2 separate regions of the Homo sapiens genome follow, and region 1 is linked to region 2. Evidence: fine-mapped expression QTL. A gene starts in region 2. The other region holds a variant in brackets. All regions are shown on one strand. Distances are from middle to middle.

What was found. PIP is the estimated chance that this variant, and not a neighbour inherited with it, causes the effect. A credible set is the group of variants that fine-mapping cannot tell apart.
Region 1: its variant is the best candidate, but not a certain one, in a credible set for the expression of TMOD2 in whole blood (TOPMed, PIP 0.75).

Annotation. Positions count from the first base shown.
Region 1 is chr15:51,617,202-51,620,115 of GRCh38, reverse strand. The region is part of intron 1 of DMXL2 (Dmx like 2); the gene reads left to right. Among named protein-coding and RNA genes, the nearest start is that of DMXL2, 4.1 kb to the left of the region's middle. The variant T/C (reference allele first, on the strand shown) is at 1,438.
Region 2 is chr15:51,750,506-51,753,419 of GRCh38, reverse strand. TMOD2 (tropomodulin 2) reads right to left here and starts at 1,823. Exons shown (of 10, transcript NM_014548.4): 1 at 1,708-1,823. It also overlaps a transcript of LYSMD2 not described here. RefSeq lists silencers at 1,410-1,469, 1,500-1,609, 1,660-2,089 and an enhancer at 2,200-2,269.

The DNA of each region.
Region 1 (2,914 bases), 130 kb after region 2:
AAGTTCCTATGTTTGTAAATATAGGAATAATAAATAGTAATAATAGTAAAATAAAATAAAGTAATATAATAGTAAAAATAAAAAGCAAGCTCCTCTTCATGGAGCCTGTCACTTGATTTTAGAGCAATCAGATGAAGAAACTTTAGTTCTGGATCAGATGATTAAAAGGGGGACCAGCCAGGACTTGGAATGAAGGTCTTGTGACTTCTCATTGTGTGGGCTTTTCTTGGTAGTATTTCCTTCTTAATATCAGAGTGCCTGCTCTGGAGAGGGTGTGTGGGTGCGTAGGTGGGTTAGTGGATGGATGGAAGGCCTCCCAGACATAGTGTAGAAGGAACTACTGTCTTGCAACTAACTCATGATTCTTAGCTGATGTTGTGTTTCATGGTAGCCTGAGAACCTTTTCAAAATACAATACATACTTTATTTCAGAGTCTAAAATTGATACATCTTTGAAGAACAGAATTGTTCTAAAAGGATTTTGAGTTTATGACAGTGTAATAATTGAAAGAAATGTGTGTTATATATTTTGCTGTGCATGGTGGGTGGCGTGATTGGTTGGCTGTGAATGACTACTTGATGTCGTGATGTCCCAATTTGTGCAATATTGACATGGTACTGCAGTCTGTAGTGGACAATCTCAGCTGATGTCTGTGGTTTTAGTGGTATCACGTAAGCTATGATGCTTTTCACTTGTGTTTAGGCAGTATACAGCTGTTTCCTTAAACATTCGATTGTGATTTCGTAAATGTAGCTGTAGATATCACATTTTAAAACATCACCTTTTGAACAATTTTGTTCTTTTCAGTGTAAGATCTAGGTTTTCGAAATGTTATCCTGCAATAAGTCAAATCTCTGGTAGTTCAAAGAGATGATCTTCTCCCGTGTATGAGCTTTATTATACTTTATTTTGCCTTTAAGACATTTCTTACTACCCTTCAGTGAATGTTTTGAGGGTTTATGCAACAGATATTGTAAATTTCTCATTATTTATGTTATTACTTTTCTGAAAGATAGTCCTTGGCTATTTTTTAAACTTTACTGCACATATTAAAATATTAATTGAAATAATGATCATACGTGATGATTTTTTAAATTAAAAATTCATTTGGCCTTAAGGCTTGCAGACTATTTTGAGATGTATAGGGGCAGTTACTATTATTCCAGTGTGACATGATTTCAACACATTGATCAAAGTTTACAAAAATTAGTAAGTCATTTGCACTCTTAGGGAATTTATAATATACTGGCAGAGATTAAAATGATTTATATAATTATAACATAAGGCAGATGGAAGAGATTGTAGTTGGGAAAACAAGAAGAGGTTTTATGGAAGAGTAAGGTTTGGAAAGATAAGAACAACAGAAGCAAAGGAATGGCATAATACGAAGGATAAATTATTGAGTGACTGTTTTCTTTGCAAAAGTTACTTTTTAA[T/C]CACAGGACTTCTTCATTAAATAACAGACACTCTTAGAATGTTGAAAAAATATAATATGCAAACATTACCTGTAGCTTTTCAGGAAAACGTACCTGGTATTCTGACATTCAATTTTTTTTTTAAATTAAAATACCAACAAAAGGTTGGAAATAAATGGAAAACCATTCATTTAAAAATTAGAAAATAATGTTGTATAACCTCTTTTATGGCATTTAGATATGTCTTAACTCTATTGTAGAATAAAATTTCAGTCCTAGAGTTATGGTAACACCAAACCTTGAAAATGATCAACCAGTTTATACATTTAGCAAATGTTGAACACATAGGTGTGCTAAGCTTTGTGGGTATTAAAAAAAAAAAAAAAGAATTACAAGACATAGTCTTGATTTCAGGGAGTTTATTGAAGAAGTGTAGGAACCTGGTAGTCTAATACGAGAGTAAAAGACACATACCTAACCACAGTAGGCCAGCTGTGCAATATTACCAGCATTTAAGTGGGAATTCAGGAAGACTAAGAGAACTTTTGGCCAGGGGAATCAAGGGGTTGGTTAGAAACATGCTTCTGTACTGGCTGGTTATTAATGTGTTAACCTGTGCTGAGAGGAAAGTGAAAGACAGAAGTCAAGAATTTAGAATGGACTTGTTTTCTAAGAGAAATTGGCCTTTTTGTTCTTGGAGTGTAGCTTCTTGTTTGTTTAAACGGATACATTTAAAACCTTGTGGGCTTGGGCTTAGTGTCAACCAGTAAGTGAATATAGGGTTTATAAGTTCTTATGTCCCTGCGTAGATTGTTAATTAGCCTTCTTGCTTGTAGCAAGAAGACTCCTAGCAACTACTCAGAAACTCTGGTAAGGTTCTGAATAATGTCTTCCCCAAAAATGGGAGGTCAGAGACCAACTACTTGTATGGTGTTGGTGAAATCACTTAAACATGTTTAGGTCTTTGATCTGTAAAAGAAGTTCTTAAAGATATTCTTTAAGTATTTAGACCACGAATGAAAATTATATGGACTTCTCTAGAGATTTTCAGGGGTCAAAAGAGAAAATGGACTAGAAACATAAAGTGGTTGTGTTGAAGTTGTAGGTCTGGAGTCTTTATCGTATATTGCTTCTCACTTGTATTTACAAGACTTGATCAGATCTCACTTGTATTTACAAGATTTGATCAGACCTCACAGTCGGGGAGTCTGACCTCCTTTCTGGCTCAGTAGATAGGCCATTCAGAGCATTTATGAAGTAGTGGGTCTAGGAATGAGTCTTTGGGCTTACAGCTGAGGAGAAGCCTCTTGATTAGGTTTTGGTCCTTGGCACCTGGCAGATGATAGTTGCCTGCGACTGTCATAGTACAGTATTGGGTGGGAGATGGGACCAGTGTGATGGTGTTTAGGTTCTCCTTTCGCAGCTTTCCTTTTCCCGTGCAATGCCTTTATTTTAGTTTCTGTTCTTAGGATTTGGGCTATTTAAAATATTACTTTAG
Region 2 (2,914 bases):
GAAATTATGCCTCCTTATTGCTTCACAACGGGAGACTCGCAGTAGATGCTGCTAAACTTGGTCATTTGGTTCCAGTGGTGACCTCCTAATTTCTCCATTGTAAGGACAAATTTTCCCAGAGTAAACTGTGGTGAGATACTTTGAAATAATATGAAAATCCTATTCCCCAACCACCTTTCACTCAAAGGTTTTGGACCAGTTGGTAAGTCCTTGCCTTATTCAACTGTTATGTTAGGTTTGCAGAGCGCCGAGTTCCTGATTCTCTCATTCCTTCTATTGCATATTTCTTTTTCAAACAATGATCCATCAGTACGCAACTTCTCTTTTCTGTGTATACACATTCTGGTTACTTCTTGCTGGGGCTTCCTCCCCGACCTCCATGCTGACCACATTTGACCACTCGTGCCCAGCCCTAGGGAGCCACTAATCCTTTATCTGCTGATCCCATCACTTCACCTTCAGCAAATTAAAGACAAAAACAAACCCCATCATTTTGTTGCCCACCAATGTACAGTACCTTACAAAAATTAAAATGATTGCAATGCGTATTTATTGGGTTAGACTGAAGAGAGTCGATCGAGAAAATCAGTTTTATCTTTAAAAAAAAATCAGATTGCTGAAGCTCTGAAAAATCTTTCCTCCTCACTAGGGTAGAGGCGCTTGTTGTCACAATTAGGCTTTTTGTAGTGCTGTTAAACAGAAACACTCTCATCTTTTCAGTTCCCTGAGAGGGGAGAATCTTGGAAGAACAGAGGTTTACAAATCATTTAGCCCAAACGCCCCTTTACATGCAGAGGCCCAGAGAGGTGGAGGGACTTGCCCAGGTCCCTCAGCTCCTGAATGGTCAAGCTAAGAGGAGAACCTGGTTTTTAAAACACCTCCCCCGATCTTCTTTTCATTCCCGTCCTAAATGCCTCGTGATTCAGATATGTAATGGGCACAGACGAAGCTGCAGTAAGCACGGCCTCCTTCACTGCTAATTTGCATTGTGACGGCATCACCTTCCTACCTCTGAATACTCTAAAAATTCCCATTAGAAGCCTTTTATTACTGTTTTAAAAATCCACCTTCATTTCCGCAGGTCAACAGGGAACATTTAGGAAGCCTCAAGGGAGCACATACTACAATTACTTTAACCAGAAAAGTAATAACAATAATAATAAGGTTCTCGAGGATCCGCACGAGGCCGCTTACTGGGAGGCTGAAACGCCCTGCGAGTGACAGCTCCAGCGATCTCAGGAAAGACGCCGGCCAGTCCACCCCTCCCCATCGCCTGCTGAACGAGGCAGGGAGATGCATACCGCTCCAGGAGCTCACCAAACATGCACAGGAAGGGGAAAAGTGGGGGAACAAAGCCCGGAGTGGAAGAACACAGCCCCGCAGCCCGGGAGGACAGGAGACCGCGCCCTCCCCGCTGCGGCCCAGCGGGCTGCAGAGGCTGCGGCACCGCAGTGCGGGGCGCGGGACTCACACCCCGGCGGGCGCCTCCCGCCCGGGCGCAGCGCCTGGTCTCCCGGCGCAGCCGACCGGGCCGGGAGGCGAGAGGCGAGAGGCGGCCCGGCTCTGCACGCCCGCCCGGCCGACCGCCCATGTCGCGGAGCATCCTCCCGCGGGCAGGGAGGGCACGGCGGCCACCGCGCTGCGGGCCCGGGGGCTGCAGACACCGGCTGTCCAGAACAGGCCCCACCCGCCCCCCGGGGCGCTCACCCGTCCGTGCGCTCATCCCGGAGCCGGCTGTGCTGGCCGTCAGTCCGTCAGCCCCGGTGGAGCGGGGCCGGGAGAACAGGGGCGGCGCCGTGGCCGGGGCGAGCGCGGCGATCAACAGGCGGCTCCCGGCCGGGCGCGGCGCCGGGGCGCGCGGCTGCAGCGGAGCAGGCTGGGAAGCGTAGTTCCCGGCTGAGCCTCGCCGCGGCCCCGCAGTCCCCCAGCCCCGCCCTTCCCCGACAGGTGTCCTCTCCCGGAATCGGGGTCTGAACCCCGCCACAGCTCTGCAGGGGAGGAAGCACCTGGGTCGGGGAGAAGCCTGGGCAGGCTCTTTGGAGACGCTCGGGGCTCCGGAGAGCGTGGATGGCAAAGGCTTTCAAGCCTGTGATGAGCATTCCTGTGAGCGAGCATCCTGACACGGAAGCCGCGTTGAGAGCGGTCTCAGGTACAGACCCCGCCCGCCCCAGGTTTTCCTGGCTGGGCGTGGGCGTGGGAGGAGAGAGTAGTTGGGTTGGCAGCCTAGGGAGGGAAGGAGGTAAGCGAGGTGGAAGTTAGCAAGGCTCTAGGGTGATGGCGTGAGGGGCTGGAGAGCCCAAGCGCAGTGGCGGCTTCACTGAGGTGAGACCGGACAACTTAGCCTGTCTGAGCCTTCGCGTCCTCATCTGTAAAACAGGCTTCAAGCTTGAAAAAGTGTTGTGAGGATTAAGCGACCCATAGCACTTAGGATCTGGCACTTAGTGCATACTCAGTGAAAGTTCCTTCCTTGGGGTTTCCGAGGGAGTTCTTGGGCCGGGAAAGTCCTATATGTCGTGCTAACCTAAAGATAGTTGGACCTCGTTGGGCTGGGTAAATGTTAAAATCCACTGGGTTTGTTAGTCGTTGAGCCCGTTCACTTCATCCCTGAATATACCCTGAGATGTTCTGTCTGCCAGGTTCTTGAGAGCTCCAAAGATAGAGAAAATAAAGTCAAGTTTCTGAAGCATGACAGCAGAGTGGGGTGACATAGGACAAAGACCAACATTATGAAAATACATGGCATCTAGATTTAACTTCCAGAGGCCTTTTCTAATTAGATGTGATATCTCTCTCCTTCTTGAACTTTTGCAGCATATTTTGAGCATAACCTTTGCTTATGGGACTTATCTTGGCAGTCTAAGGTTCGTTGAGTTTTGCAAGTTGCTGCTATGCAGTGTTTCACATGATGGTGGGA